4 separate regions of the Homo sapiens genome follow, and all the other regions are linked to region 2. Evidence: fine-mapped expression QTL. A gene starts in region 2. Each other region holds a variant in brackets. All regions are shown on one strand. Distances are from middle to middle.

Region 1 (8,059 bases), 55 kb before region 2:
CTGGTGTGCTTTTCTCTTGTGAACCAGTCTTTTGTTACAGGGCTGTCTCCCATGCCCCTGATAATGGGTGAGGGGAGGGCTCACACCTTTTCTTTCCTTACAAGGGCAAGATGAGAACCTGGAACCGATTGCCCCTGAAGTCTCCAAGGCCCCCAGCTCAGAGCCCTCTGCACCCAGTTCTGCCTGAGGTCACTTGCCCCAGACAGAAGCAGCAAACCCGGGTGGGGGTCGAAGCTTCCCACCACCCACTCCACAAACACCCTCGCTCCAACTTCCCCTTGGGGCCCAGGCCCTTCACACTATCGTGGCAACAGCTCGACCCGTGACAGGGAACACGGTGCCCCAGCCTGCGGCCACCAGTCTCTCTGTGCTGCATCAGGGAACCTGCCCATGATATCGGGTATCTGTCTCAGGCCTCAGCAAATCTGCACGGGTTCTGTAAAGCGAGTGTTTAGGCAGTGGCTGGAACTCAGCTGGTCTCTGACTGGCATGTCATAGTTATCTAACGTGTGTGGGTGCAGGACTGCTCCATCCTGAGCTAATCAAATCCTAACAGCGCCGCGACTAGGACTTCTCGCTGTCAGGAAAAGAGATTCAATTTCCTTTTGAGCTGAAATTAATTTTCAGAGAAAATCACTTGATCACCGTGCCCCACGGAGTGCTCCCAGCCCAGCATGCTGCTTCGCGGCGGGGCCCGTCCTCGGCAGGGGCCCTGGGAACACCGTGTCTGGCCGAGCGGAGCTCTGGGAGACACGCCGGGAGAGCACTGACCCACGGGGAATCTTGCTGGCCTCGAGGCAAGATATTTGGGGAGCAAGGACAGCTGGTCTGCTGGCTGCTGAGCGGACAATAACTTCTCCCCACCCTGCTTCCTCCTCTAGCAGTCCAGGGATCGTGGCAGCCTGGGTCAGATCCCAGCCTCTCGGAGAACAATCACTGCACAACAGCAGCAGTGCTCAGCTGGGAATCGCGCCCAATTCGTCTGGTGGTGAGGAGGGTCTTTGGGCAGCGGCAGGCGCCCGCTCTCGCACCCGGGGCCCGGGTCTGCAGCTCTGGCCCTTGTCCTCATCGGCCCTCACAACTGCTTTCAACCCAGAGGTTCCGCTGACTGCGCAGGCACACGCATTCCTCGCCTGCATCTGGTTGGCTGGAACCCAACTGATCGCCTATAAATACCTGGCTCAGGCCCACGCTCCAGCCCAGCGTTTCTTCACGTTGAGGGATATGTCATCAACACATTTTTAAGCCAGCACAAGATATTATTTAGGAGAATATGAAATTCTCCCTGGATTCAGAGAATCCAGAGTGTCTGGACAGACTTATGGAAAGGCCCGGAAAGAATTTTAGACATTGTGCTAGACTCCGTGCTACAGGTGGGGACACTGAGGCCCAGAGAGGCGACCCGCAGAAGGACCGGGCAGGATGGGAAGCCAGGCTTCTGGCCTGAGCTCCACCGAGCCTTGGGTAACATGGATGCTTTGGTCCCAAACCCCCCAGTGTCTGTGGCTGACTCAACTCCCATCTCCCACCTGCCTGTGAGGCCCCCTACAGGGGGAGCTGGCCGTGGCCAGTGGCTGTATCCCCACCCGTCTTGCTGGCCAGGAAATGGGGAGGGCACTGTGTCCCAGGCTGGGGCCACCTGGGAGCGCGTGGCCCTGGCCACTTTGAGGGACAGCCTCCCAGGTCAGCAAAAACTGTAACATTGACACTAAGGGCCCAGAACCTCTGCTCTCCTGGCCCACACCTCCCCAGGGCCCTCAAGAGGAGGCAGAGGTCACTGAGGACAGGATTCCTGGCCGCTCCGTCCTCCACACGCTCCTCGAGTCCCCGGCCTCATCTCATGGGATCTGGACCCACCGGCCACCCAGCAACTTCAAGCTCCTGAGGGCCACAGTCGTCCTCCAGACACACGCAGACCTGGCCGCCAGGCCCACACTGGCCACTCCAGACACACGCAGACCTGGCCGCCAGGCCCACACTGGCCACTCCAGAGAGCTGCCGGGAGGACAAGGAGGGAGAGGGACGAGAAGCCAGTGGGGCTGCGCTCAGTGCTGGGCATCAGGGTCTCTAGGTGAAGATGGTTAGCCCCAGCTCACCCCCAGTCTGTCCCCGATGGACCCCACGGACTCCAAGAACATGAGCATGGGAATGACCCCACAGAGCCGGCCACTCAGCCCAGGTGACAGTAAATCTGTGCGCTAAGGTCGTCTGTCTTCCTAAGGAGTGGGGCCCTGGGCCACTGGCTGTCGGCAGAGACGAGCTCCTGGCTGGGGCTGTGTGGGGATGGAAGCCTGCCCTCAGCACCGGGGACATCTGCCGCCCTGGTCCTGCCACGGGGGCTGGGAGGTGTCAGGATGGGGCCCACAGGGATGGGGAGAATGCTGGTGGGTAGTGGGTAGAGCAGGGGCAGCTGATGTGGGCTCCCGGCTCGTCCACAGGCCCCTGGGGTCAGTCCCAGGGCAGAGCCCCCCAACACGGGCCACACTTTTTTTCTAGCCAAGAGGTCGAGACACTCGGGGCCTTGCCCCACCCTGTCTGGTTCTTGCCAACACTCAGTTCTCTGTGGCCATCTTTGCGGGACTCTCGGTTCCATGAGAACCCGTTGGCCTGGGGTCACCCCTCACCCTGCCTAGGACCTCTTTCCAGTACAGGCTGGGCTGTGGCTGCAGGTCCCTTCCTGGGCCCCAACCTCACTCGGGGTCTGAGCCCATCGAGGGAAGGAGCCACATCTTCCATCCTGGGACCCCAATCCAGCACCCAGCAGGCTCCCAGGCAGCATGTCCAGAGTTCACTCCAGAGTCTCTCGAGCGCTAGTGAGGGAGAGGACGAGAAGCACAGCACTGGGAACGGATCGTTAAGTTTAGTAAAACACTAGTGCTTGACTGAGAGTCCCAGTGGCCCTACGTGAGCTGACGGTGCTGGGAGGTACACCATGGATAACTGCCACGGCCGGTGCGCGGCGTGTTTCCCAGCAGCTGGGCCTCCTTATGCGTGTAGCACCTCCCCGCCGCCTATTTCCTGTGTCCCCACGATCGCGCACGCCAGTTGACGCTCATGTCCCACCTCCCCTGTGTTTCCCCTCCCCCCCATCCCACACGCAGGGACCCCAGCCTAGAAAGCATTGTGCTTCTCTCCCACTCCGCCTGAGACCTAGGGTAGCACTGGGCAAGCGAGGGGCGCAGAAATACGGAAGGACAGAGAAGAACACACCACAGAGTGACCCGGGACCATGAACCGCACATACCTCCGACCTGGTGGGCCCAGCTCTACCCTCTCTCAGACCAACAGTCAGCATCTACTGGGAGGACGGTGTTCAAGGGAAGTTCCTCCCGGGGCCACTTCCAAAGCAGAGAGGTGGACCCGGTGTGAAACACATGAGCAGGGCACTGGAGACGCAGCTGAGGGCGTTCCAAGTGGTTCTCGGGGAACGTTCAAAGGAACAGGGGAACAGTCACGACATTCGGAGAATAAAGCAGTGTGTACAGACTGCATGGGATGCCCTGATTACATTTTAAAATCCACAGATAGTCACAGATGACGGAAAGAAGATGGCGGGCAACACACTCAACTGTCAACCCTGGTTTCTCTGGGATGGGATTAGAGGGGTTTTCGCTAACTCATTGGCAGGCTATGAATGTCCCCAACGGTCCTCTGAGATGCCGCTGACCACCATGTCCCAGCCAGATGAGCTTCGTGCCGCAGCTCACGAGACCTGCCCACAGACCCAGCATCCTTGTTCTGAGGGGGCAAGGGTCGTGCCCAAAGTGGGCTTGGTAGAAGTGAGGTCTGCACTCAGCCCCTGTGCTGAAACCCACGCGCAGTGATGGTTGGAAACTGCTAGAAGCGAGGTCTGCACTCAGCCCCTGTGCTGAAACCCATGCGCAGTGATGGTTGGAAACTGCTAGAAGCGAGGTCTGCACTCAGCCCCTGTGCTGAAACCCACGCGCAGTGATGGTTGGAAACTGCTAGAAGCGAGGTCTGCACTCAGCCCCTGTGCTGAAACCCACGCGCAGTGATGGTTGGAAACTGCTAGAAGCGAGGTCTGCACTCAGCCCCTGTGCTGAAACCCATGCGCAGTGATGGTTGGAAACCGAGCAATGAGCAGTATTTTATGCAGCCGTGATGTGCTTTTTACAACACCAGTGATTTTACACCAATGAGCAGGAGACTGTGGGGAGAGGCGGCCCCTGCACCCCCTGCACCCCCCACGCTGTGTTTGGCCTGGCCTGTTCCTCTGGGGGATGTCATCCCGGAAGCAGAGCCTTTGGGTCAGCTCAGCAAGCACCTGGCCTGGCCTGGCTCCTAGGCCACACAGGTAGAGGCTGACCCAGGCAGCCACTGCCTAGGCTTGGGGAGGCTGCCAGGGCCAGGAAAGGGCCAGCCCCAGGAGAGGGGAGGCAGCTGGAGCCGCCTGTCTGAGAACAAGTCCCAGCAGCTTGCTGGAGTGGCCGTGCGGGTGGGGGCAAGGCTGCTGGGCCTCAAATGGGAGGGGACGTGTTCCCACCTGGTCGTCTCCCCGTCCTGTAGCCAAACCAGACAGAAGCAGCACCTATGCCAAGCCTCAGCAAGGTGGGAGAACCCGCAGCCCCCCTCCCCTTCTGCAAACCAGAACCCAGCTGCAGACAAAGCTGGATGCTGCGTGGACCCCGGCCTGCTGGAGCTGGAGTCGGGCCATCTGAAGGCCGTGTGGCCTGGATCCAGCTGTGCTGCTCTCTCTGAGTGCCCACCCTCTCTGGTCCCAGCAGGCAGCTTTGCACCACAGAGGCAGGAAGCAAGCTAGACACAGCCGGCCCTGCTTCCTGCCCCTGTGCAGCCTCTGGAGAGGGGAGGTGAGAGCAGAGCCGC[T/C]GGGATCTCCCTAGTTTCTGGCCGCCTCCTCCCTGACAGTCATCGCCAGATTGTTTATCTGCTAACAGAACCCAGATTTGTCCCCCAGGACCTCCAGTCCCTCTGCAGGCCAGGACCTCGCTCCTCCCCAACCTTCCTTAGCATTTCCCCACCCAAACCCCAGACGAACATACAGGAAGGAGAGACAGGGAGCTGCCTCCAAACGCGGCCGTGCACCCGCCCACCCCCTCCTGAAGGCCACATCCGTGTCACTGACACATATCGGGGGCTTTCTGGGTTTCTTTAGCCGGGCGGCCCTGAGCAGCCTGGCCCATCCAGCCTCTCTGAGCTCCATCTGGGTAACATCCGTCATGCAGGGCGACATCTCCTCCAGCATGAGCGCTGGAGGGCTCTGGAGGCCCGGCCCCCGCTGCCACTACATGGCTTACAGCCCTGCAAACAAGCAGGGTGGTCATGCACTGAGGTTCTCAATGGGCGATCCTGCCCCCAGCGGACCCTTGGCCATGTCTGAACACACTTGTGGCTGTCACGACGGTGGGTGCCACTGGCACCTAGTGGGCGGCAGCCAGGGAGGCGGCCACACACCTGTGTCACACAGGAGGGCCCTCACAGCAGAGAGGATCTCCTCCAAACGTCAGTAGTGCTGAGGTTGGGAGACCCTGTAACAGAGCCGCCCGCACTATGGCGAGGATTACATGGGAAAGTGTGCTGTGATGTTCTCGGAACAGTGTCTGGCACACAGGAAGCCCTCGGCAAACAGGGGCTGCTGTGTTTACCATCCTCATCTCAGCCTCGAGAAGTCAAAGCAGATGCCAAGATGCCTGTTTTCCAACAAGGAAACAAAGCCCAGAAGAGGGTCGTGCTGGCCCAGAACTAGAATCTGGGCCCCGATCCTGGTCTCTGAGGGAGCCTCCTGCCTGGGGCCAGGTCCCATGGAGTGCTGGCTCCGGACACTACCACCATCTCAGAAGGGACGGGCTCTGGCCCCCAGGATACAGGCTTTCTAGAGTTGGTGGGGGACATGTGGGGTGCTGTTTGGGGACTGGCTGTGCTCCCACCCCAGCAGCCCCTCCTCCCACGCCCACAATGGCAGCTGGGAGGCTGCCACACGGAGCTCTCCGGAGCCAGCTACTGCTCAGCAGAGCTCGGCCCTCCCGTTTCCAGGAGGTCACTTGGCCTCGGGAGGGCTGCCCCGCGCCTTTCAGGAGGGGATACAATAGGTGGCGATGCAGGCAGTGAGGCCAAGGCCACCTTCCCTGGGACTGAGTCCCTGGCATGCACCAGGCACCGAGGAGGGATGGAAGACGCTGTGACTTTGATCCACATGACCTCTCCAAGCTCCCAACAGCCTGTAGGAGGGCCGCCTGGTCCCACTGTCCCCCCTTCACAGTTGGGGACCGAGGCCCAGGGAGGCAAAGGAACCTGCCCGAGAGCCCCCAGCCCCCAGATCCCCCGGCGCACCCCTCACACCATGCTGCCACCCACGACCCAGAGGACGTGGCCAGCTGGAACCTACCAGGTGCCCTGCGGCTCTCAGTAGCTTGTGGGTGGAGAACGGGAAGGCCTCGTTGCTCAGGTCTGCGTCCAGCACCTCCTGCAAAATGGCTCGGCTGCAGGCAAGAGCAAAGTCGCTCAGTCAGCAAGTGCTCACGGGTGGGGCCTGGGCAGGAAAGGCCCCGGGGACCTGCCATGAGTGGGATAAGTCCCTGTCCTCATGAGACAGATGACAATAAACATGGATTAATAAAAATACACCAAGACAGATGTACGTTCCAAATATACATAAGACAGCCACCTTCCAACGGGGTAACGCTAGGGCTAGCAGGACCCCTGGGGGAGGCCAGACTTGGAGATAGCTCTAACGGGACTCGCGATTCTTAGATGGGGAAGTGAGGCCAGAGTGGTTATCTAACCATAGAATGCCCTTGAAGCCCACAGGCCAGGAGGAACAGAGCATCTGGACCAGGTCCACAATCCACAATCCACATCCCCAGGCCTCTCCAGGTTTCCAACTCTTCAGAGGCCAGAGGGGCCTCAGCTGCTGCTTTGGTAGCCACGGCCCGAGAGAGGAGCTGGCTATGGTGGCCTCAGTGCTGTACAGAAGAGTAGAGTAACTTGCCCAAGGCAGAGCCGGATTGGAGCAGATTCCGGCCTCCTCCCAGCCCACTGCAGAAAGTGCTCTTCCCAGACACCACCCCGCTCTGTTCCCTGACCTAACCCTCCAACTGGGCACCTCGGCCCCAAAGTCCTCTGCCTGACATGGGTGTGAGACGCTCAGGCTGCAGACTTGGAGGAGGTAGAGAGCTGGGCTTAGCACCCAGCAGGTGCTAAGAGCCATTTCAACCTCCTAGGGGACTGTCACCTACCGAGGGCAGGGCTGCACCTGAGTGCCACAGTGCTATGAGGGCCCGGGAATGTTCCTGAGCACTGGACACTCAGTCCATACTGGACAGTTTGCACAGACTTGCTGGGTCCACCCCTGCTTTTAAGCTCTGCGAGGGTGGGGATTCGCTCCCCACTTTCCCTGCTCCGTGGTACCCAGCACCACATCTACTCTCACACTTGCGCAAGTACCGGAGACCTCACTGGAGCCAACACCCATGGTCTCCCAGGAAGCCCTCACCTCCTGGGCACCGTGCCCACCTCCAGGCCTAGCCCTCTTGTGCCCCTTCGCATTCTCACCCCTTCCCCTGTCACCACTTAACCCTTTGTCATCCTTCAGCTCTTGGCTCAGCTGTCACCTCCCCCAGGAAGCCCTCCCTGACTCCCTAGGTCTTGGGCAGGTACTCGTTGTCCAAGATCCCACAGTCTCCTGCCAGGGTGTCTCTCACATTGGTTGTACCCACCCCCAATGCATCCACCCCCAGGAGCTCCGTGCCAACAGCATCCCCCTATCCCAATGTGCCTGGCACAGAGCAGGCTCTCAGTAAATAGAACTGACTGTGAACACCCTGGCTTGGCACAGCAGGGTGAGGCCCCCATTGCTAGGAGACGCCCCCCCACTTCTGTCCCTCTGGGATCCCAGCAGGTGTTGAGGCTGCAGGGTGGGCTGTCCAGAAGTACTGCTGACCCTAATCCCAATCGTCACAGTGCTGGGAGCCGCCACCCACGTCAGCCTGAGGTGCTCAGCTGTGGTACAGTTGGCCAAGACCCTTATGTAACCACTCAGCACCCACGTGGTGCCAAGCCCTGGAGAGTGATACCAGTGCCTCAG
Region 2 (8,059 bases):
CCTCAGTCCTGGTGGCTCTGTCCAGGAAAGGGGCTTCTGCCCTCTGGACAGCTGCCTGGAGTTTCCAGCTCTGGCCCCAGCTTCACTCTCCAGGCCACACAAGCAGCATCTGCTCCCTCCTCCCACCACAGCTCTTCAGCGACTGGGAGGGCAAGCAGTGCCCCCAGCTCCGCCCACCTGCAAACTGGCCATGCACCCTTCCCCAGGGTCTCTTCCCCAGGCTGGTTGTTGTGAACCAAGAACTGTCCCAGCTAGCAATGGGCTGTGGCCCCTCGCTATGTCCTATCCTTCCCTGCCCCTACCTGGCCCCCGGTCCCTACCTGCCGTGTGCCAGGTGGTCCCGGAGGTCAGCCGCTCCCGCTCCAGCAGCACCGCCCCACTCATGCCCAGCTTGGCCAGGTGGTACAGGGTCTGGCAGCCCAAGCTGCCTCCACCAATGACCACCACGTTGGCCGTGCTGGGCAGGGGCCGGCTTGGGCCTTGGGCCACCACCGAGGTGCCCTGTCCCTCCTTCAGGGTCCGCTGATATGGCACACTCTTCTCGGCTGTGGGGCCAGCTGCGCTGGACAGGTTGCATGGCCCCATGCCCCGGGTAGGGCTCTGGCGAGGGTGGGCAGCAGCCACACGTAGGGCTCGGCTCAGTGAGGCCATGGGGGCTCCAGGCCTCAGCGAAACAGGGAGCTGGGGAGAGAATCAGAGCTGGGTGGGGTGCAGAGGGGACACGCTGGGGGCTGTGCTGAGTACCCAGGGAAATAAGGGCCCTATGGTGTTACCTCCCAGGGCCTTCCTCTTGCCACTTCCCCATGGCATTCATTCATTCACTCATTCATTCATTCATTCACTCATTCATTCATTCACTCATTCATTCATTCACTCATTCATTCACTCATTCATTCATTCATTCACTCATTCATTCACTCATTCATTCATTCATTCACTCATTCATTCATTCATTCATTCTGTGTGTATGTATTAAGGGCCTGGTATGCAGCAGGCTCTGTCAGTGCCCGGGAGCAACCTTGGTGAGGATAGGTCTCTGCCAGCCCACAGAAAAGACAGGGAGCGCCAAGCTCTGGGTAGAAGTGGGGGTCGGGGCCACAAGGGGAGGTAGAGAAGAGTGGGTGGCGTGGCTGGCAGAGATCCAAAGTGAGACCTGAGGAAAGTGGGCTGCCCCGTGAGGCCGGGCAGGGAGGATGGGGAGGGGACTGAGGACAGAGGACCAATAGCTGGAAAGGAGGGGCTCCGGTCTCAGGGACACTCACCCCCAGATCACAGACAGCGAGAGGCTGGGGCTGGGCGGGGGCCGTCCCGCCAGCCTTGAGAGCCCTTTCGGAGCTCAAGATGCTCCTGAGGGGCCAAGCAGCCCTGCTGCCCCACAGGTCTGTGCTGGGGCAGACCCCAGGTCCTGCGGGGTGGGGATGGGACCTGGGAGGCAGGAGTGCCCAGAGAAGGCGGTGGTAGTGGCACAGCAGGGCAGGGAGGGGGTTGTGTTGAGTGATGGAGACACTTGCGCTCCCAGACAGAGAGCCAGGAGGAGGGAGAGGCATCGTGGATGCTACAGCAGTGGCCGCAGGGTATCGGCAGGCAGCCTCGAGACGGGGCACCCAACCCCCAAGCCTGGAGCCAGCACCTCCTCCTGGGCAGGCCCCTCCCAAACCCAGACAAGAGGGGTTGCCCCCTCATCAGCCCCAAAGCTCGGTGGGACTAAGGCGGAAGCTGATGAAGGATGTGGTGTCCCGGCTCTGCTCCCTTGGGGCCACCTGGGATTGCAGAGTAGGGGCTCAGAAGCCGGGTTAACAGGCCTTCCTCCCCTCTGCTCCTTCCCAGCTGACCCACCCCGACTCCCTCCTCCTTCAGGAAACCCTCCCAGATCTGCCCAGCCAGAAAAATCCAATAACAATGAGAATGCAAGAGGGAGCCCTCCTTCTCAGGAGAGAAGGCGCTGATGAAGACGGATGTCTCCTTGGGTGCAGGCGAGGCAGGACAGGCAGTCAAAGGAGTCACCATGTCCTGGGGACGCAGCAACCGTGGTGACTGCAATCCACACAATCAGCCTCCACGTTTGCACTGTAACTGAGCTCGTGTTAACTGAGCTCGTTCAAGCAAAGCTGTCTGCAGTAGGGCCTTTCCCCTGGAGAGGGCATGTGCACATTGATTTTACCTGTCCTCAAACTGACCCTTTGCTCATTCTAATAGTAAAAAAACACACCCCTCGGTGGAGATTTTAAGATGCTAATGAGGCCGGGCTCTGTGGCTCATGCCTGTAATCCCAGCACTTGGGGAGGCCGAGGCAGGCGGATCACCTGAGGTCAGGAGTTTGAGACCAGCCTGACCAACATGGAGAAACCCCATCTCTACTAAAAATACATTAGCCGGGGGTGGTGGTGCATGCCTGTAATCCCAGCTACTCTGGAGGCTGAGACAGGAGACTTGCTTAAACCCGGGAGGTGGAGGCTGCAGTAAGCCGAGATTGTGCCATTGCACTCCAGCCTGGGCAACAAGAGTGAAACTCCGTCTCAAAAAAAAAAAAAAAAAGATGCGAAAGAGACATGTGACGTATGAACAAACATGTACAGCTACCGCATGTGCACCCAGAGGACCAGCCATCACATGCTGCCTAGTAACCTCTTCCTCTCTTTCCACCCACTTATGAATAATTGTGGAAGACTCCCTGAAAGGGGGTTTCTCCAACAATCATCAATGCTGCCTCACACTCAGGAGCAGCCCCCCGCCTGGAATCCTCTCTCTCCCAGGGTGCATCCGCACCTAACTTTCAAAATGTTCTTTTTCTTTTGCAATAAATTGCTCTATGTTGCAGCTCTTTTGCTGTGTGTCTCATGTTTAAATTCTGTTTTGTTGTTGTTGTTGTTGTTTGTTTGTTTGTTTGTTTTGAGAAAGAGTCCCACTCTGTCTTCCAGGCTGGAGTGCAGTGGCATGATCTTGGCTCACTGCAACCTCTGCCTCCTGGGTTCAAGCGATTCTCCCACCTCAGCCTCTCGAGTAGCTGGGATTATAGGTGCATGCCACCATGCCTGGCTAATTTTTGTATCTTTAGTAGAGACAGGGTTTCACCATGTTGGCCAGGCTGGTCTCGAACTCCTGACCTCAGGTGATCCGCCTGCCTCGGCCTCCCAAAGTGCTGGGATTACAGGCATGAGCCACTGTGCCCAGCCTAAATTCTTTAAACTAAGAAGTTAAGAACGGAGGTCTCACAACAGCCCTCAATGGAAGGGTGGGGTGGTGTCCTGCCCAGTGTGGACCTCCACTGCCCTTTTCTGGGATCTGCAGGAAAAGTGAAAGGGATGTGGCTGTGATCCAAGATGTGAAGTGCTGTGCCACCTACGTCAGTATGAATGACTGATATAATTATCTAAGAAAGTCAGCATCCTTTTTCAAGAGTGGACCATAGCTATGCACGTTCGTTCACTCTCATTGAACACCTATAGACACATGATAATGTCTCTACTTCACAGCGGGGGAGTCTGACACACGGAGAGGCTCCCTGAGGTGACCAGGGTCATAGGGCCTCCATGTGGCAGTGCCAGGGACTCTCTCCTGCCCCCTCTTCTGACCATCCCAGGGGGACTCAGGACCCACTGCCACACTCTGTCCCACCTGAACTGTGGGCACTGCCCAAGCCCTGACGAAGCCCAGAACCCTGTCCTAGGCACAGTGGGGGATGTGAGGGGGATCCCAGCTCTCAGGCTGGTCAGGGCTGCCCCCCATCTCCTGCCCCAGTGCCCCATCCCAAGGGAGGGAGCAGGGAGTCTGATTGCAGCGGCGTAGGGGAGTGAGGAGGTGTTGGAGCTTGTCCTCAGCCTCTCAGCCCTCAGTGTGTCAGCCCGCCTGGCTCCTGCCTGCAGAGGTGGCCCCGGACAAGGAGGCATGCCTCCTGCATGTGTCTGTACATACCTTCAGTCCTTGAAGGTCCACAGTCTTCCAGGAGCCCCCAAAAGTGGTGCCCCACCAGGGGAAAGCCAGCTTGAGTGGCACCGAGGAAGGCCCTCCAAGGCTGAACACCCCCACCCCACCACCCACCACCCACCACGGTGCCGCATGGCACAGCACACCTGGTCAGCTGTGGGCAAAAGCCTCCCTCCTCCTTCCGACTGTGCCCAAAAAGCGACAGCTGCTGGCGCCGGAGGCTGCCACGTGCCCCTTCACCACCTGCCTGGTCAGTCAGGGCTCTTCTGACTGTCAGACTGGGGGCTGGCAGCGGCCCCAGCGGGGACAGCCCAGAGCCCCTCCTGCCTGCCACCTCCCTGGAAACAGCTGCCTCCACATTAACCCACTCTCTTGCCCCCTCCAACTCTGTCTCGTACCTGAGTCAGCTTCCCAGGAGTGAGGGCTGAGGACAGCCCTGGGCTTGGGATCAGACAGATGGGTGGGGGTTTTGTCACAGGACTGGGGCCTCGAGCAACAACTTAACCTCACTGCAAAGCAGAGGACCCAGGAACGCCCTCCTCCTCCCAGGCTCAGGGGGTGGTGGGGGTCAAGCGAGGAGAGCGCCTGGCACCTTCGCCTGGTGAGGGTAGGCAGACTTGTGGGGAGGAGCGGCAGGGGGCGGGGAGGCAGCTGCCCATATGGTGAACCCTGGTCCTGCTCATGCAGCTGGATGGTCCCTGCAGCCAGAGGCAGAGGGAGATCCCAGCCAGATCTGACCAGGCCCAGCCCCGCCCACATAGGGGAGGCCCCAGCCTCGTCCCTCCCTGGGGGTGTACCTCCAAGTACCTCTTGTCAGCTGCAGTGCCCCTCGGCCCTAAGAGTGCTTGGCCCAGCAGAGGTGCCTTCACCTTCTTGCTTCCCAAGCAGTGGCCTGGCCGGAACTCCAGGCCTCCCCCGCCCCCCACCCTCGCTGCCAGCCCCATGTCTCCGCCCAGGATCTGGGCGGAGCGTACCGCCCACCACTGCGGCTTCTAGGCCAGCTTAGTTGGGGCTTCTAGGCCAGCCCTGTGGGCAGCTCCCTCTGAGGGCGGCAGAGCAGGGTTGTGAACCCCATGCCCCATTACCCGTAGGCGACCTGGCAGTCACCCTTCCGCTCCAACCCTCATTTCCTCGTCTCTGAAACAGGCGCCTCAGGGTTGCTGCAGTAGACCCAGGCACCACCTGCCTGCTGGAGCCGCCCGAGCTCCCCGCGCCCAGAAGGAGCTATGCACAGGCAGGGTGGGCAGGAAAGGTGGGGTCAGCAGCAGCTTGGGCCAGGGGCCCGTCCACTGCAGGGAGGCTCCTTTGGTGAGGTCATCTCAGCACATGCCCCAGTTTGCTCACCCCCAGGGACAGGATGCTCACTGCCTTCAGAGGCGAGTGAGAAGGCCTGGGTCAGCTTCCCAGGGACAGGGTCTCCTGGTCTGTCTGCGTCCTGCTTTCCCGAGCTCCCAGACCCCTCTGGTGTTTGGGGAGATGCCCCCAAGCCACTGGCTACTGCACAGCACGTAGCCCCCAGGGCAGGGATTCCAGCCTCCATTGACTGTTGGGGACAGCAGTGCCCAGGGAGGGGGCCACACAGCAAGCTGGTGGAGGAGGCAGACCGGATGCTGCAGCCTGACTCTGGGCTGGGGCAAGTTACCCCTTCCCAGACAGAAGTAGACACCCAGAGGAGGGGTGTGGAGGAAACCCAGAAAGAATACACCTCTGGATGCCCAAAGAATCAGAACAGGTGCTGATGGAAAGTCACATCTCCTCCTCGCGCTGGATCAAAGACGGGGCATTTCAATGGCAGTCTGTTAATATTGTAATGATGCCAGCTGCCAATACCGGAAGCGATCGTATAGTAAACTGCTGTAATTAATACCAATCAAATCATTGTGTTCTTATTCACACCGAGGATGTCCGACTGTCTTGTTGCCAGCTTGTCTATCCTCTACATTTACTGAATGCCCAATGTGTACAAAGCACTGCTGGGAAACCTATAGTGACATCTAAGACCCAGCCCCTGCCCTCGAGGGGCTCAGGGTCCACGAAGCAGACAGATCCAGGGAGAGACACGACACCACAAGGCTGGCTTCCTTCCAGCAGGGAATCCAGGAGGACCTCTTAGAGGAGGGGGCCTGGGCTCTGGGCCTGACCACGTGCTGACACCATTCTCAGTCCCTGCCTCAAAGGCAAAGGGCCCACTGGCTTAGGCCCCTGGCTGCCCAGTGGAAAGCTGGCCCCGCCAGTTTGAGGCTTACCTGGGGTGGTGTGGGGGTCCTGGGGCAGAGGACCTCCTCTTTGGATGGTGTGGCTTGCCCAGTGGCCTGAGCTAGGGCTGTGCTCACCCAACAGGGTGACGAATGAGCTCAAGAGGGCAAGGAAGGAGTGTGGCCCAAGTTCTCCCAGGAGTCCTGGACGTGCAAGTGCATGGGAGAAAAACGCAGCAGTCACCACAGCTCCAGGGCAGTGGCCGGGTAGCCCACACTTCTCCTGTCCCTGCACTCAAAGACAAGTTGCAACTGTTGCAAAACTGTTACAAGCCAAGAGGGCAGCACAATGAACCTGCACTTTGGACAAGGGGTGGTGGCTGGGGGCCGGTCCCGGCCTGTTAGCTGTCTGTTAGTATCGTAGGATTTTCATCCGGCAGGGCCTGTTAGCACCCAGCTCCGGTCTGGGAGAGGTGGAAAGGCTGTCTCCCCCCAGGGACTAGTAGTCACAGCTCTGGAGAGGCCAGGCTCCGGACAAGGAGGCCAAGACAGGGTCCTGTACGATCTCGGGCTGGTCTTATCACCTCTCCCTTTGCTGAGACTTAGTTTTCCCATCTTGGAACAGGAGGCTGGAAGCCCTGCCATGTCAGTTTCACAGAAGCCTTGTAAATTTCCCTGAGTAAATTTCCTTCAGTCCTGCTCTAGATCACACCAACAGAGGGGCTGCCACCTCAAAGAAGTCACCCCACCAGGGATAAAATCTACTTGATCACGGTGCATGATCTTTTTAATGTGCTGTTGAATTTGGTTTGCTAATTTTTTTTTTTTTTAGACGGAGTCTTGCTCTGTCGCCCATGCTGGAGTGCGGTGGCACGATCTCGGCTCACTGCAACCTCCGCCTTCCCGGTTCAAGCGATTCTCCTCCCTCAGCCTCCCAAGTAGCTGGGATTACAGGCACGCACCACCGTGCCCAGCTAATTTTTTGTATTTTTAGTAGAGACGGGGTTTGACCATGAATGGCCAAGCTGGTTTCGAACTCCTGACCTTAAGTGATCCCCCCACCTCGTCCTCCCAAAGCGTTAGGATTACAGGTGTGAGCCACCGCGCCCAGCTGGTTTGCTAATATTTTGAGAGGATTGTTGCATCTATGTTCATCAAGGATATCGGTCTATAATTTTCTTTCTTGTAATGTTATCTGGCTTTGGTATCAGGGTAATGCTGGTCTCGTAAAATGAGTATGACTCTATGTTTAGTGCACTCTGAAGAAAACTGTGGTGCAAATCAAAGTCACAGTTGACTCTACATTCAGGAGTGAGGGGCTGCCTCCAGGTTCACTGCCCTCCCCAGCCTCCCCGCCACCGCTCCAGTGGGGACTGTGGTAGACTTGTTCCTCTGCCCTCATGGCCTGGACATACCTGAGCCAACCCCAAGACTCTTCCTCTGGCTCAGGCTGGCCCTCTCTGCAGGCCCCCACCAGCCCTTGGCCCCGACTTGCTGGCCAGGCTTCCAGGACAGAGAGAGGTGCCTGCAGGCTGCCCTCTGACGGGGCAGAAGTCCAGGGAGGAAGAAGCGGAGGCGTTGGGGGAGGAGGCTCCTCCACCGAGCTCTGCGTGCAGCCCTGTGAAAGAGGACATGAGCAACAGCATCCCAACCCAAACTATAAGAGCCAACATCACCACTGACCAGGAGGAAGGCAGTGCCCCAGTCACCTCTGAGGGCCTCCTGGGAGTCAGGCAGCGTGCTAAAGGCTTCACACGTGTCATCTCAAATGAGACAGCAACAACTGCTACCCATCGTGGAGATGGGAAAACTGAGGGAGAACACAGCCAACAGGTGCCAGACCCAGGTGATTCATGGGCCAGGGAAATTTCCAGAACAATTTTCAAGGGCTGAATTTACACTGCCAAGATTTTATTTTTTCAATAAGAACCTGAAAAAGA
Region 3 (8,059 bases), 33 kb before region 2:
CACCCCTGCACTCCAGCCTGGGGCAACAGAGCAAGACCCCATCTCAAAAAATAAATAAATAAATAAAAATTTGAAAAATTAAAAAAAAAAGGAATGAAGTGCTGACACACACACTACGACATGAATGTGCCTTGAGAATATCACGCTAAGTGGAAGAAGCTGATCACAAAAGCACACATCTTTTATGATTCTACTTACGTGAAACGTCCAAACTAGATATATCTACAGAGAGAGAAAGTAGAGTAGGGTTGCCCTGGGCTGGGGATAGGGTGAGGTGTGGGGTATCTTTTGCTGGGAGATGAAAACATTCTAAAACTAGATCATGGTGATGGTTGTACAATCCCGTGAACTCACTAAAAAACACTGAGTTGTACCTTTTAAATGAATAAATCATATAGTATGCGAATTAGATCTCAATAAAGCTGTTTTCAAAGCACACACACACACACGCACGCGCACACACACACACACATAAACAACATCACTCCCTATTTCCTTCCCCAGGTTTACAAATGCCTGGGTGAGGTTTTGAGAATCTTCTATTCTTCACTGTATGTTCTACTTGGTCTTCCCCTTCAGGGCTCAACATGCCCCCCACTGCTGAGCAGAGGTGCCCACCTCATTGTTGTTACAGGAAAAAAATAATCATGACAGCAACAACCACAGCTTCCTGAACAGCTGCCGTGTGTCGGGAAGCTGTTTCATCTCCTCCCAAACTCCCTTTGAGTTTCCACAAGGGAACTCATATTACCCCTCACATACTCAGGGAGGCCAGGGATGGTGGCACAGCCAGGCAGTGGCAGAGTTATGGTCCAGCCAGGCTGTGCAGGGGTGCACTGACCCTGACAGCTGGTCAGGCAGATCCCTGCCCAGCTCCACATTCAGTGATGCCTCATTGGCGGACTGGATTGAAATCAGCCATGGAGAAAGCATTTACATCAGGGAAATTGGCCGGTGCTACAGAGCCAGCTTCCTCCCCTCTGCCCCAGAGAGCTGGTTGTTAAGCTGTTACCAGCACACCACAGGGACCATCTGCCTCCTGAGCTCTCCATGGCTTCTCCAGCCCCACCAGGCATCACTGTCCTTCAGGACAGGGCTCCCCTTTGTCGGTTTCTGCTGTACCTTTGCTGATGCCACCGGGGCTGCCAACCAAAACCCTCAGCAGCCTCCCGCGCTGGGCTCCTCTAGCAGGCCGGGGAAGCTGCCAGCGCCAAGAACAAGCACGTGTTTCGTGCTTTAGGACGGCTTCAGGCGCGTTTGCGGAGGCCGGATGAAGCCACAAAGCCAAGTTGGCATCTCCCCCGAGCTCCCACATCCTCGAGGGCCAGAGTCCCACAGGCTTTAGAAGCTGTGGGTGCGGAGGTGCCAGACGGAGCCCCGAGCACTCCCTGGGAGGCAGCGACAAGGGACTCGGGCACTGAGCCGGCCCTGCTGCTGCGGCGCTTCATGACACACACGCCTCCTCCTTCCTGCAGGAGCCCCCTCTTCCGACGCCTTGAACAGATGTTCCACCACTAGAGCAAGCTTTCGGGGAGATGGTGGAAATGAACGGTTTATTCCCTTCAGAACTGGCTACAGAACCCAGTGCGGGACCCAGTGGGGACCTTGCTCAAAGACCATGAAGAGTCTCAAGGCACTGACAGCACAGCATGAACCCAAGCGGGGCCCTTCAAGGCAACGGACGACCGCAGGGTCAGACCCTACCCAAGCCGGACTTGCGACTGGCCTAGAGGCCCCAGGAAGGAACCCCCTCGTGGATGCCTCCTAAGCTGTCCCTGGGCTCTGAGACTCTGGGCTCAGGCCTTGGCTCTGCTCCTATGTCAGATTCGCAGTGAGGTGTCACGCGTCTCCCTGGGGTGGCACGGGGACAACAGCTGTGCTCCACCTGTGAGCACTTTACAACACGACTGGGCAGGCCAGGGCAGACGCTGGCCTCGCTCCTTCCCGGACAGCTGCGGGGGAGAACGCCCCTGTGTGGTGCAGGCTGCTGCGGGGGAGAAGACCCCCAAGACTCCTCACCTCCACCCCCTGCACGTGGGAGCCAGGTCCCCAGGCAGGGGCGACGGGCTGCCAGCTGCCCCGTGTGAGCAGCCTCGCCTGCCCACTTTGGAGCCAGAGGAACAGCAAGCAGGCTCCAGGCCACGGCCCTCCCGGCTCTGGTTCCCTCTGCTTGTCCCTTGGAGGGGCCCATACGGGGCCTGATGCCCAGGAGCCTGCGGCCCCCTTGTCCTGGATCTACTCTGCGCTGGCTTCCAGGAGGGAGGACCCCCTTCCCCCACCACGTCTCATGCCAGCCTCGGCGCAGCTCCGGAGAGCGGGAGGCGGAGGCTCAGAGCGGTGCAGCCCCACCGGGCCCCAGCCCGTTGCCTCCGCCCCCACCTCACCCCATCCCCAGCAGCACCACTTCCGCTCAGGCCTGGCTGCTGGCAAAATCTCGGCACAGAGGGAGGAGGGGGAGAGGAAAACGCATGATTCCTCCTCAAAATGGAGTCAGCCGAAAAAAGCGTGAATGCAGAGCCCGAAGAGACTCCTGGGGGAGGGGAGCCCCTGCAGGGCCAGCCGAGGGCCGGCGCAATGGCTTATCTGAGGGACAGGCAGAAGGACGGACCCCCACGGTGGACCCCAGCTACGCACCGTGTCGTGGTGGGGCGGGAAGGCGAAGGTGTACTCGTCTGCCAGCAGCCTGCGGTAGGCGTAGTCCTCGTGCGCGCGGCTCCCGTAAGCCCCGTAGTAGTCGTACTCGAGGACCTGGGAAGAAAAGACGTGGTCCTCAGCCTGCCTCTTTGGCCCCTCCCCGCTTCCCTCCCCAGAGCGGGGTCCCGCTGAGGCTGTGATGGGGTCAGGCCTGGCCCTGCCCTCGGAGAGCCCTGCACTGAGTGCCCGTGTGTTGTGGACGCGGGCAGGGGGCCCCCATGAGGTCCAGGCAAAACAGAGGCACAAAGGAGGCCGCAGGGTTGCCTGGTGGGTCTGAGAGCCCAGCCAGGGCCCAGGAGGCTGGAGGAGGAGCTGGATGCACCCAAGGTGGGGAACGACAGGGAGAGGTGGTTACCCAGGACCTCAGCCAGGGCTGCTCCCTGGAGCCACGGCAATCCCAGGCCCAGCTCCTGCTCTGGGCCAGCCCCTGCGGGAAGCGTCTTACACTCCTACCAGGTGTGCCCCTTTCTACAGATGAGGAAAGTGAGGCGCAGAGAAGTTATATCTCGCCCAAGGGCACAGACAAGTCCTGGACCTGGCAGTGGCACGAAGCCAGGCAGGTGCGTGGGCTCCAGAGTCCAGCTTTTCTGCCACTGCCTTGGCCTCCCTGGGATCTGCCCCCATCAGACACCCCACAGCCCCACAGCCCCATGCCCCTCCCTGGCCGCTGCTCCTGCAGACAACCCCCCACCCCGCCACCTGCCCTCCTAACTGCCGACACGGCACAGCTGTGAATGCAGGTGTGGGCAATTCTTAACCTCCCAGGGCTGCCAGCCCCGTCCGCCCAAGCCTCACCTCCTCTTCACACACAAGTGGGAGCCAGTGTGAGGTTGTAAGGGAGTCAGGCTTTGCTGGCATCTCTGCATGGAGTACCCCCCTCCCCAGCAGGGACATCCCACCCACTGCAGCCCTGCCAAGGTGTCCTGGACACCCAGGCTGGCTCCCGGGTGGGGGTGCAAAATCCGCCCATCTTGGGACCTGGGGTGTGTTCCTGACTCTCCTCTCCTCGCCCAGGGACAGGGGAGAGGGGCTTCCAGGGCCAGATCTGACTGGAACACAGTGGGTTGCACTTCAAGACAGGGTCTGCCCAGACCCCTCCTCCCCGCAGGGTTCATGAGGACGGCATGTCCCTAGGGGCCAGCAGGAGAAGAGACGATGACCTGCAAGGCTCTGACCCCAGAGCCGTGGCCCCGTTAGCCAGCTCTGGCTCTCATCTCCCCTCCCGATGCCCTGGAGCTCTGGAGCCTGGCCTGGGCTGTGGGTTGCCATGGGGATGGAAGGTGGGTGCACCAGAGGGGACTGGTGAGACGCAGCCCCGGGAAGGGGATTTCGATTTCTGTAAATCTGGATCAAATGCTACCCCTCAGCTGGCCTTAAGGCCTCGCGTCCCCTGCTCCCGAGGGTCTGGGTCCCAGGTTTCACAGCAGGACTGCCTTTGTTCCTCTCACTGAGGACCCAGGTCCCTGGGAGTCCCCAGAGGACGCCCAGAGTCCAGGCCACTGTGAAACCTCCACTGGGAAACTGAGCACCCTGGGTGCATCAACCTGCCCAGTGCCTGCCCTCCTACGGACATAAACCAACAGTCGGAGTGGCCAAAAATAGATGCACAGAATTAGGAGACGCTCCATTCCTCCTGCAACCTGGGGGAGTCTTCTTGCTGTCTCCCCACCGCAGGACACCCCTTCTGCTCTGCCTACAGCCCTTCCCACTTAGGCCATGGAAGGCCTGGCCACAGCGGACGGGTAGTGGGGAGGACGAGGAGTGGGAATTGCGTGAACGGCACAAAGAATGCACTGAGCCTTGGGGGCAGGTCGGCAGGGCTCGGCTTCCCGTGTGCAGAATAACTGATCACGACAGTGGAACCACCTGGGGAGGCGGGGCACACGGAGGGGCAAGGACGGGGCAC[G/A]TGGAGGGGCAAGGGGGTTGTCAGGGCAGGGCCTCCCAGCAGCACAGCCCAGCAGGCACTACTCACCGGAGCTGGGCCTCGGGGATGAAACCATCCCGGTCGCTCCCAGCCATGCCGCTCCTGGAACACGCAGCCTTGTCCAAGGAGTTCCTGAGCAGGAGTGGGGAACAGGCATCTGTCACGCATGGCCTGATACCCCTGCGCAGGGCAGAGAGCCACATCCGCCACTTTACACCCAAGGGTGCGGAGAGCAAGGAGGCCCTGACTCTTGGAACCAGGCCTCCAGCCCAGTGTTTGCAGCTACCCTCACTGCCTCACCCTGAGAACCCCTATGTGTAGAATTACCACCTGCCCCATCTGCCCTCACCCTGAGAACCCCCATCTATAGAATTACCACCTGCCCCATCTGCCCTCACCCTGAGAACCCCCATCTATAGAATTACCACCTGCCCCATCTGCCCTCACCCTGAGAACCCCCATCTATAGAATTAATTACCACCTGCCCCATCTGCCCTCACCCTGAGAACCCCCATCTATAGAATTAATTACCACCTGCCCCATCTGCCCTCACCCTGAGAACCCCCATCTATAGAATTACCACCTGCCCTGATCTGCTCTTGCCCCAGGAATCCCATCTATAGACTTACCGCCTGCCCCATCTGCCCTCACCCTGAGAACCCCATCTGTAGAATTATCACCTTCCCCTATCTGCCCTCATCCTGAGAACCCCCAGCTACAGAATAGCACCTGCCCCATCTGCCCTGGCCCCGATAACCATCATCTGTAGAATTACCACCTGCCCTGATCTGCCTTGGCCCTGAGAACCCCCATCTGTAGAATTACCATCTGCTATGGACGGAATCACATCCCCACATAAATTCGTATGTCAAAGCCCTGACCCTGACGTGACTCTATTTGGAGATGGGATCTTTAGGTTAAATGAGGTCATCAGGGTGGGTCCTAATCCCATACGGCTGGAGCCCTTATAGGAGGAGGAAGCGACGCCAGGGCCCTCTCCCCGCTGCATGAGGACAGTGAGAAGGTGGCCGACTACAAGCCAGGAGAGCCCTCTCCAGGAACCCATCGTCTGACACCTTGATCTTGGACCTCCCAGTCTCCAGAAATGTGGGGAAAAAAAAGTTCTGCTGAAACCTCTCCACTTGTGGCCTTTTGCTGTGGCTGCCCTAGCAGAAAGATGCACCATACGACCCAGCAATTCCACTCCCAAGTATGCACAAGAGAACTGAGAGCGGGGTTGTAAACAAATTCCGTTCACGCATGTTCACTGAGCTCTATGCGCAACCACTAACCAGGGGAGAGAACCCCCGTGGCCCTCAGCTGATGAGTGGATCAACAAAGCATGGTCTGCATACACCATGGAATATTATTCAGCCATAAAAAGCAACGAAATTTGGACACATTTTATCACAGGATGAACCTTGAAAACATGCTACAGGAATGAAGCCAGACACAAAAGGTCATGTATTGGATGATTCCAGCATATGAAGTGACCTGAACAGGCAAATCCATAGAGACCGAAACAGCTTAGTGGTTGCCAAGGCTGGTGGGAGGAGATGAGGAAGGGCTGTTTACTGGGGATGGTGTTTCCCTGTGGGGTGATGAGAATGTTCTGGAACTGGGTAATGGGAACGGTTGCACAGCACTGCAAAGGCACTTAATGCCACTGAATTGTACACTTTAGAGCAGTTAAAATAGCTCATTTTAAGATCTGCCTACTTAATCACAACAACGAATGTAATGAACACACTAGAGAAACAGAGTGGGAGGTTTCTTTAAAAATAAATTTGGTTTGGGAAAAAAAAGAAAACCCACTCTCGGGTTTGGAAGGGCCCTACCCAGGGGCCACCCCCTCTGACTGGAACGAGGCCCCGAGCGCAGGGCTGAGAGGGCCTCGGGGGCAGCATCTGGTTCCAGATGGCCCGCTGAGGGTCTGTCCCAACAGCACTTGCCCTCCCCTCCACCCCCGAGGCCCCAAGAAGGAGGAGGCACGCCCAAGGCCACAGCATTCATCAATGACATGGACATGTCCTCCCTGCCTGCCTGGGATTCTGAGGGGATGGCAATCGAGGGCACAAAATCCACCCACCTCTCAGTGAACCATGGGGACATCCCATGGGCCACCTTTCTAAGGAGGCAAACTGTTCATCTCAAGAGCCCATTAAAAGAGGGCAGGCTCCCCTCTTTATAAAAGAAAGAAAGAGAACAAACTTAAGCGGCTGTCAAGTGTCGCAAGAAGGCTGCTAACTAGGAAGGGAAGTCGAGGCGTGGGTGAACCAAGATTTCCCTGGGGGGCAGGGGCGTGCTTCAGCCCTTGCCAAGTTTCTTCGGTAGAGCTGCTCAGTTCTGAGGAATGCGTCTGAGCTGACTGCGAGAGGAGCAAACCCTGCATTCACCCAGGGAGGCTTCTGAACTGTCAGGACTGGCAAGGGCGTGATTACTGATTACAGGCCCGGGGGCATGCTAGGGAGACCCCAGGGCCATGTGTGGCCTGAGATCATAGCTGGTCCACCAAGCCAGGCCAAAGGGCCAGGGCAGTCTGGGAGCCAGCCCTGTGACCACTCTGGGCCTCTCCCCAGGAGGTACAGCTAATACCAGGATCTCTCTTGGGGCCAGACACTGGAATCTCAGGTGAGGGAGGCCCCTTCTTCAGTTTAAACGCCACCTGCTCCCTGAGCCTCCCTCTTGCCTCCCCGCCCATCCATCTGTTCAACAAACATCCCCCGAGCACCTCAATGCTCAGGAACCAGAGTGCCTAGGACATAGCCCCTGTTCCCCAGAAAGCAAAGCGTCCAGCACGAGATGGCCAGGGAGAGGGGGAAGGAATGGAGACGGGGCTGGGAGCGCAGAGAAGGAGCTCCTTTGTCTTTGGGGGACCAGGGGAGGGCACAGGGGCAGACCTGAGAAAGGGGCACCTGACAGTGGGTTTCACTGAATGGGTGAGTCGAAGCTCACCAGGGCAGAAGAGCCTCCGCAGCAGGCTCTACAGGCAGGAGCCCCTCTCCAATGTACGCCGTGTTCTGGCTGCTCTCCCAATACGTGGCTGCATACACCCACCAAGACCCCGCCCCCAGGACCCCTGCCCTGTTGGCGCTGCTGCCAGCAGTTGGCAGGGGGCGGTTCCTGGGTGTGCGTTCCTGCTCCTCCACTACAACAGAAGCCCCCGGGTGGGAGGGAGCCATTTCCACTTTATTCCCTAATGTTCTTGGCCCTGAGCACTGTGCCCAACACATGGGGGTGCCGGGTTACTACCTGGGGAATGACAGACACCTTGTCACCGCACCTGACCTGCGGTTGGGGTACACCTTGCATTTCTGTCACTCCGCTGCCCTGAGGACGTCCCAGACCCTCGCTGCCAGTCCCCAGCAGGAGCTGTAGGGGCGTTACCTCGTGCAGCGGGTCTCTCCTCATGTTGCGCCCGGCCAGCGGCTCATCGTGGGG
Region 4 (8,059 bases), 74 kb before region 2:
CTTGCTTCTCTGCCGGTGGGGCCAGCGCTGAACAGACCGGGGTGGAGTCAGGGCTGTGCTTTCCGCGTGGTTCTGCCACTTAGGGAGTGTGCCTTGGGCGGGCCATTTCACATTCCTGACCCTCACTTTTCTCATCTGTAAAACCAGGCTGATGCCGTGCGGGCTAATGAGCCAATAAAGCTCACACTTGGGCTGGCACCCACTGGAGGTGGGTATGTTTGCACTCCGGGCCGTCGCTCCAGGAGAGAGAAGCTTGCTCCTGAGCCTCCTCCCTGTGCCAGGCGTGGTACCAAGTGCTTCCCCCTGAGCGTCCTGAAGCTGCCTCAGCTGGCCTGGGTGGGTCTCCCCTTCCTGCCCTCTGAGCTGCCTCTCAGGGACAAGTTCAGCTCTTTGATGGTTTCTGGAGACAGTAACAGATGCACTTGTGTTCAGCCACTTCAGCAAAACGCTGCCCAGCCTCATGGGGAGAGAGGGAGATGGATGGGCCTCGGAGTCCCCTCGCATCAGCTAAGCGGCTGCTGCTTCTGCAAGGCACTTCACTTCATCACAGAAGGGAAGTCACGAGCCCAGGAGCTCTGCCTCACGTTGTATAAATCACAGCTTCTTGTGGTCCATAAGTCACGGCGCTAGCGCTGTGAAATGCCAGGCCCCAGCCTGGAGAGCCACTCCGGCCCTCTGTCATCTTTACAGCCTAGGTGACAGTAGACACGGAGCAGGCCCAAGAAGCCTCTTCCCGCGATCACACCCAATTGCCAGCCCAGAGAAGGGTCCCAGGGTCCTGCCCAAACACCTGGGGGGCACTTGTAGCCTGCCGATCTCGGGCAGGGAAACTGAGACTCCCAGATAAGTACCTCACCTGGGGCCCAAGAGCGGCAGTGATTGGGAATCCTAGCCAGCTCTGGAACCTGCCACAGCGACAACCCCACCCCCACCTCACCCCCCACTCACACTCTTGCTCTCAGGCTGGTTATCCTCTTCCTCTTGCAGAGACAGCAGCCGTGTCCCCCCTACCCCGCTCCAGCAGTACCCGCACCTCCTACACCCAGATAAGCGTAACCCCGTGGTTGCTGAGAGTTGCCACTTGCCCCACACTGAGGCTATGCACAGCCGTGGCAATCTCGTGAAGCCATGTAGTTTCTGTTTCCATTGATGGAGGAGGAAACTGAGGCTCAGAGACCTAAAGTTAGGTGCCAAGGTCACCCAGAGTAAGCCGGGGAGCTCGAAGTGTCCCCAGGTCTGACTCCAGTGTCTGAATGCTCAACCTCTGCTTACTTAGGAAACAGGAATTTCCCCAGGACCCTTGTGGGGGATTTTATCTAAAATAAGTTCCTTATTTAGAGGCTTAGGGGAAGTGCTTTGTTACCTGAAAATGACCTACATGCCCCAAGCCAAAGGGACTCTGGGCTCGCCCACCTTCCGAATGATTGGGGTGTGAGTCCAGCAGCCCAGGTTGCTATTCCTGCCCCTGCTGTGTGACCCTGAGTTAGTTACTTTCCTTCCCTAGGCTTGGGTCTCCCTATCTGCCCACCGAGGAGAGGGTTCCCCAGCCTCCCAGGGGGCAGGGACTGCTAGGGTGGCACAACCCCCCATCTGTGAGGTGCTCAGAGCCCTGGGGTGAGGAATGCTCATGCCCATCAGTGTTGAGAGAAGTGGGGCGACCCCAGGCTCCAGCCAGCATAGGGGTGCCTGCCCGACTGGGTCCCAGAGCACACCAGGGCTGTGCTTTCTGGTGGCTGCTAGCCTCATGTGGCTACTTACGATTAATTTTAAATTAATTAAAATGATACAAGGTCGGGTGCTGTGGCTCATGCCTGTAATCCCAGCACTTTGGGAGGCTGAGATGCGAGGATCACTTGAGCCCAGGAGTTCAAGACCAGCCTGGGCAACATAGTGAAATCCTGTCTCTACAAAAAATACAATAATTAGGGCTGGGCGCGGTGGCTCACGCCTGTAATCCCAGCATTTTGGGAGACTGAGGCGGGCGGATCACCTGAGGTCGGTAGTTCGAGACCAGCCTGGCCAATATGGTGAAACCCCGTCTCTACTAAAAATACAAAAATTAGCCAGGCTGTGGTGGTGCGCGTTTGTAATCCTAGCTATTTGGGAGGCTGAGGTGGGAGAATTGCTTGACCTGGGAGGTGGAGGTTGTAGTGAGCTGAGATCACACCACTGTACTCCAGCTTGGGCAACAGAGTAAAACCCTGTCTCAAAAAAAAAACAACAACAACAAAAAAAAACAAAATGGAACCTTTCTGCGTCCCATTCATACCCCCAACTTTTCACATGGCCCAAGGCTGTCTCACTGCACACTGTGGTATAGCGCTCTGCCGGTGACGATGTAGGCACTTTCTTTTTTTTGTTGTTTTTGAGACAGAGTTTCCCTCTTGTTGCCCAGGCTGGAGTGCAATGGCATAATCTCGGCTCACCACAACCTCCGCTTCCTGGGTTCAAGCAATTCTCCCACCTCAGCCTCCCAAGTATCTGGGATTACAGGCGTGTGCCACCACGCCCAGCTAATTTTGTGTTTTTAGTAGAGATGAGACTTCACCATATTGGTCAGGCTGGTCTCAAACTCCCAACCTCAGGTGATCCGCCCCCCTCGGCCTCCCAAAGTGCTGGGATTACAGGCGTCAGTCACTGCGCCCGGCCAGTGTAGGCACTTTCAAAACAGTTTGCTCAGAATTCCTGAGAGGCAGTACTCAGCCACAGTGAGCGTCATGGTATCAATATTTCCAGAAAAAAAATTTAAAAATAGCTACGAAACGGTGTTTTTAAAGTTGAGGTCTGGAAGACCTGGCTCGGGGTCTGGGAAGGTGGGTCTTTTGTGATGTGGTCCCCGGGCGGTGCACTTGGGAGCCATGGCGGGGCCAGGACCTCTGGCAGCGCAGGGATGGAGCCCGCAGGTGATGAGCTTGGGAGGTGAGTTGTGGAGGCTGCGCTCACATCAATGCCCAGTGCCCTCCCCGAGGGGCCAGGTTCTCTCTCCACAGGGGCGGGGGAAGCACACAGGGGACAGGGAGGGGTGCTGGGTTCTCTCTCCTCGGGACAGGGAGCGCAGCCAGGTTCTCTCTCCTCGGGACAGGGTGGTGCCGTTGCGTGCATTCCCCAGCTGCAGCCACGAGAAACAATTTGGAGCGGAACCCGGGCTCTGACCTCCCCTCATCCTCAGCCTTCCCCCAGGGATGGGCCGTGAGATGAATGTGGTCACCGGCCCAATCCAGGGGTCTATGGCCAAACCGCAGACCCGGAGGAAGCAGGCCAGGCCATCTGGGGAGCCGGCTCCCCTCCTCTCCTCCCCTGGCTCCCACAAAGCTGTCTCATCCAGAAGCCAGGCCCGCCTGTGAGCAAGGGGAGGCTGCAGGTGTTCCTTCAGCCTGAAGCGTGTGAAAGCCAACAGCCCCCACCCTGGTCTCCAGCCGCAGCCCCCTCCCCAGACTCAGGGGGCCAAACCCACTTTTCACAGCCATCTGTAACCCAAACGTCTGCCCACAGCTTTGTTCGAGCTCAGTCCACAGTGGGCCGCGTGGCCTGGGAGCGTCCAGTGGCAGCTGGGGCCTGCCAGGACTGCTGCCCCCAGATCGCTGTTTGCTGTGTGTGTGGCTCTGTGGGGCCCCGGCTCCACGATACCCTCAAGCATCTGCCTCCCGCTCTTCCCAGATTGCAGGGCATGCCTGGCAAGACTGCGCAGTGCCGCTCTGACGGGCCTGATCTGAACCTGGGCTCGGGGGGACAAGGGAGGGGACTGAGCACGTGGGATGGACAGAGATGCACACCCCTCCCAGGCAGGAGAGGCAGAGCTGCTTCTGACACACAGGCAGTTATCAGGGGGAAGAGAAGGTGGGCAGAGGAGCCACCCCATCTCAAGGCAGCGTGCAGGGCAGAGCCTAAGAGAGGGTCCTCCTGCAAGGGCCAGACAAGGAGGAGGGCATGGGCAGGAACCGCGTCCAAATCAACAGCAAAGACAAAGGTCACCTAGAAAGGGGGACTCCACCAGACTCTTACCCAGCAGCACGTCCCTCCTGCCTGGGCCTGGTGAGCGAGGGGCTCAAGGGGAAACTGAGGCAGGAGCTGGCACTTCTGTGTGGGTGAGGAGGGCACCAATCTGAGGCCCCGCCCGCTCCCTGCTTCGGCTCCTCTGTGTTCCCGGGCTGCCGACTCTCAGGAGGCTTTGCCACCTGAAGAACAGGGAGGTCGAGCAAGGTAAGAAGAGCTTTCCAGCTCCTGTTCCGACCTGAGAGCCGAGAGGCACCATCCTGAAGAATGGCCTTGGTCCCAGGCCTCCATGTGCGCTGTGGCAGACAATGCCAGTCGATCACCTCTCTTTCCTGACCCAGACACAGCCTCATGCTCTTCAGCCAAGTGCCCCAGGGAAGCCCGCCACCGATCAGTCAAGCCTGGAGTAAAAGATGAAGCCTATTTGCTTCGCTGTTTTCACGTGGGGCTTATCAAGTATTTACTAAGCACCTT[C/T]TAGAAGCTTGGAAAGGGCTACAAGCCATGGTCCCTGAGCCCAAGACACTTACAGGTTTGCTTTCTGGGAGGATTGGGGTGGATTAGAGACTGCCTTCCAGTCAGTGACCACAGGATGGGCCATCTTGGTCTCTGTCCGTATCTGGTTTGGGGGTTTTCGCAGGACTAGGCCTAGGCTAAGGACAGGGAGGGCACAAGTTCTGGCTGGGTCCAGGGTCCTGGGACCCAGGGCCATTTGGGACCTGTGAGAATGGATGGACAGCATGGGATGGGGCATGTGGTCTGAGCCCTCAGTAGATTCCCTTCACCCTCTTGTTGTTGGGGTCGAAGGGCGACTTCAGGTGAGCCTGGGCACCATAGGTCACCCCCATTCTCTCCAGGGCATAGTCCCCGCTCTTCACAAAGTCCAGCGAGACCTAGGAGCAGAGGTGGGGATGAGGATCACTCTCTGTTGGTAGGTACAGGGCTCACGTCTGCCTGCTTCTCTGGAGGAGGGGGTCTTGGTCTTGCTACCTGCCCTGTGGGCAAACTCATCCCTGTGCCAGGGACTCCTTTCTGAACCCAGGCATTGCCCCAGAGCAGGTGCAGTTCGTGTCCATGTGATCTTGAGTTGGACATGGGCATCTGGGGTCCGGCAAAGCCAAGGTCTGGCAGCCAATATGACTTCCACCGGACAACACACCTCCCACCCCAGCAATTCCAGATGCCTGGGAAACAGCAGCAACACGGTGGCTTCCCCGGACCCGGGCAAGCACAGCGGCCAGAGCAGCGCCGAGGCTGGGGGCCAATCCGGCTCGAATCCCTCGGGGCAGGGGCGGCTGGAACAGCCTTCTAGACAGCTTGGCCTCTGCATGCTCCCCATCCCACACCCTGGCTCGGGCTCCCCAGCAAGCGCTCGGGAGCCAGTCAGCCCCAGGTGCAGGTGCTCTTAGGCAGGAGGAGGGTGTCACCTCCAGCCTGGCACAGCTGGTGACGCCTGGCACTTTTGCTGCAGCTGCTATGAGGAGGGCAGGCTAGGCCACTCAGGGAAGCTGTTCTTCCTTTACAGCAATTAAACCCAAGGTCAGGGCCACAGGAGGGAGTCTCGGGCTCCGCTCTGGGAGTCAGAGGGCTCCTTCTTGTTCCTAGCAGCTCAGGACTGGATGAAAAAAATAAAAAACAAACCAAGCTTTTTCTGCGACAGGAGCTTTAGGAGTGGTGCTTCTGAGCCATGTGTGCACCTGCAGGGCTGAGAGCTCTGAGCTGCCCCCCGCAGGCAGGCAGCATGGAGAGCTGGTGGCCTTCAGATGTCCACGGGCATGCACAACTCAAAGCGGGCATCTGGCCTTGCTAACAGATACCTACGAGGCAGAAACGCCTTCCCCATCTCGGAGCCTTTCCCATCAATGAGCAGGTTTCCCTATCTTAGGCAGAAACCTCCGTTACCCCACTTGGGTGCTAGAAAATGTTTAACAACCAGCTCTGGGGTGAGGTGGGTGTGACTGTAGCATTTGCCCATTTCCATGGTGCAAATGCTCTGGACAGCCCTGATGGAGGGGGCAGGAGACGTGCACCGGCCGCTCTGGGTGCATCGACTGGTTCCCCGGCTGCCTGTCTGGATGCCGTTTAACCTCGGAACCTCGGCTTCCCTGGTCACGTTGGTTATGGACCCATCCCTGACTCCGGAGAAAGGCGAGCATTACTGTTCTTTGAAGAAATGGCAAAGGAGCCTCCACTCCCCAGCCCACCCTGGCATGGAGCCCATAAACTCCGGTTTGGCTGGGCCCCAGGGCTGTGGCCCCCAGGACCATGGCCCCAGGGCTGTGTCAGGAGGCCCTGCCCACCGTGGGAGCCATGCCATCACAATCCCCACATATTAAGACTCACTCTGTGCAGTGGCCTGTATGACAGCCCTGCATGGTAGGTGAGTGTCCACATTTTATAAATGAGGAAACTGAGGCTCCAAGAGAGGATCCTTATCCAAGGTCACAAAGCAAGTAAAAGGCAGATCCAAAGGCTAGTGGCATCAAGTGTGTCCCCAGCCTCCCAGCTCCACCGCCGGACTCAGCCCCATGGGCTGCCACTTCCCCACAGCTCCACAGGACCATGGTCTTGCCCGAGGCCTGGCGGTGTCCCCTCCCCATTGGGCCTGCGAGCTGGGCCTGCGCATGTTCTGCAGCTCTTGCTAAGGCTGCTCCGTCTCCAGCCTACCCCTCCTCATGGCTTCTCCCAAGTGCTCGCTCCCTCCCCAATTCCCTCTACGTGTCCATCAGGGGCTCAGGCTGGAAGGCTCTGGAGCCAGGCCAGCACCTCCCGGCCTCACTTAGGGCTTAGGCCAAACGTCAGATCGGCTCCCATGGAGAGACACGACCCTCCTCACCGGCACCTCTACTTGCAGTGCCAGAAAGATGGGAAAAGGAGGTGGAGGTAGAGACCACCCCTTCCCCTTCTGGGGAGGCTGCCCACCCCCTGCCCCACCACCCCTGGCCACCCAGAGCTGTCCTGGGACTTGCTCCTGGGGGCAGTGCCTGCTCTTTCCAGCCTGTTCCTGCCTCCTGCAGCCAGGGGTCAGGGTCACCTGGAGGGGGTGGGGTTGCCTGGGGTCAGGGGTGTCGGGGGTGAGGAAAGAGAGGATAGGAACATGGGTCTCTGAGTCTCTAGTCGGTCACCCTGGGGGCCACCCCTGCACCCCAGGCAAAGGGTGGGCTGTGGGTGGCCTGAGGTTTGGGTCTCTGGTGTGAGGAGCTGGAAGGTATCAGCCTGGCTGGCTGGCACCTCCTTCTAACCAAAAAAAGCCTGGAATCACCAAAGTCGGATTCTTCCAGAAAGAAAACAGAGAGCAGCTTTGGCTCTGCCCAGGCACAGCTGGGGAGTCCTCCACCTGCTGAGGCCTCTTCCTCCCCCTTCTCCTTCTCCCTCCCTCCTCCCTCTCCCTCCTCCTCCTCCTTCCTCTCTCCCCTTTTTCCTTCCCCCTCCTTCTCCTCCTTCCTTCCTCCCCCTCTTCCCTCCTCCCTCCTTTCTCTTCCCTCCTCCTCTTCTGGACCACACCCGTGCCTCCTCCCTATGCCCGGCACACTCAGGGTGCAGTGCAGGGAGCTGGTTTGGAGCTGGTGAGGGATCGGCATCTGCCTTAGCAGGGCCAGAGAAGGGGACTCACCGGCCCACCGCTGGGGTCATGGATGTAACCGTAGGCGATGGTCTTGTCGATGGCGAACCCAAAGTCAGCCCTCCGGACATGGCCCACCACTTGGCCGTTCCTCCAGATGGCCTCCAGGCCAAACATGGGTACTTTGCTGGAAGAAGCAGTAGAGAAAGCTGGGGCCCCAGAAACCGCAGGGTGGGGACGCGTCCACAGCGGCCTGGAGGAGAATGGGGGGCTGCATGATGCACACCCAACCGTGGCTCCAGGCAGATAGGGCTGGCCTACTAGGACTACGCTGGTCCCCAGAGCCAGCCCAGCACCTGGCCTGGACAGCAGGGCTCGGGCTTCGAGTGAGTAAAAGGGATGAATAGAAAACATCAAAACCAGGAGTGGACTTTGCTGTTTCCAGAAGCGAGCCCCGTATATTTGGGAGGGCCCCTGCTTCCGATTTCCTTCCATTGTTGTTCAACT

What was found. PIP is the estimated chance that this variant, and not a neighbour inherited with it, causes the effect.
Region 1: its variant is fine-mapped to the expression of SARDH in blood mononuclear cells (TOPMed, PIP 0.95).
Region 3: its variant is fine-mapped to the expression of SARDH in whole blood (INTERVAL, PIP above 0.99).
Region 4: its variant is fine-mapped to the expression of SARDH in caudate (GTEx, PIP 0.93).

The regions. Positions count from the first base shown.
Region 1 is chr9:133,678,832-133,686,890 of GRCh38, forward strand. SARDH (sarcosine dehydrogenase) reads right to left here. Exons shown (of 21, transcript NM_001134707.2): 17 at 6,362-6,455. Among named protein-coding and RNA genes, the nearest start is that of DBH-AS1, 25 kb to the left of the region's middle. RefSeq lists an enhancer at 6,577-7,077. The variant T/C (reference allele first, on the strand shown) is at 4,846.
Region 2 is chr9:133,733,523-133,741,581 of GRCh38, forward strand. It overlaps SARDH (sarcosine dehydrogenase), which reads right to left and starts at 4,830. Exons shown (of 21, transcript NM_001134707.2): 1 at 4,732-4,830; 2 at 321-681. The coding sequence starts at 651.
Region 3 is chr9:133,700,282-133,708,340 of GRCh38, forward strand. It overlaps SARDH (sarcosine dehydrogenase), which reads right to left. Exons shown (of 21, transcript NM_001134707.2): 11 at 8,006-8,059; 12 at 4,667-4,750; 13 at 2,635-2,748. Among named protein-coding and RNA genes, the nearest start is that of SARDH, 34 kb to the right of the region's middle. The variant G/A (reference allele first, on the strand shown) is at 4,601.
Region 4 is chr9:133,659,132-133,667,190 of GRCh38, forward strand. It overlaps DBH (dopamine beta-hydroxylase), which reads left to right. Exons shown (of 12, transcript NM_000787.4): 12 at 1-198. It overlaps SARDH (sarcosine dehydrogenase), which reads right to left. Exons shown (of 21, transcript NM_001134707.2): 20 at 7,604-7,739; 21 at 4,429-4,883. The coding sequence ends at 4,758. Among named protein-coding and RNA genes, the nearest start is that of DBH-AS1, 5.8 kb to the left of the region's middle. The variant C/T (reference allele first, on the strand shown) is at 4,468.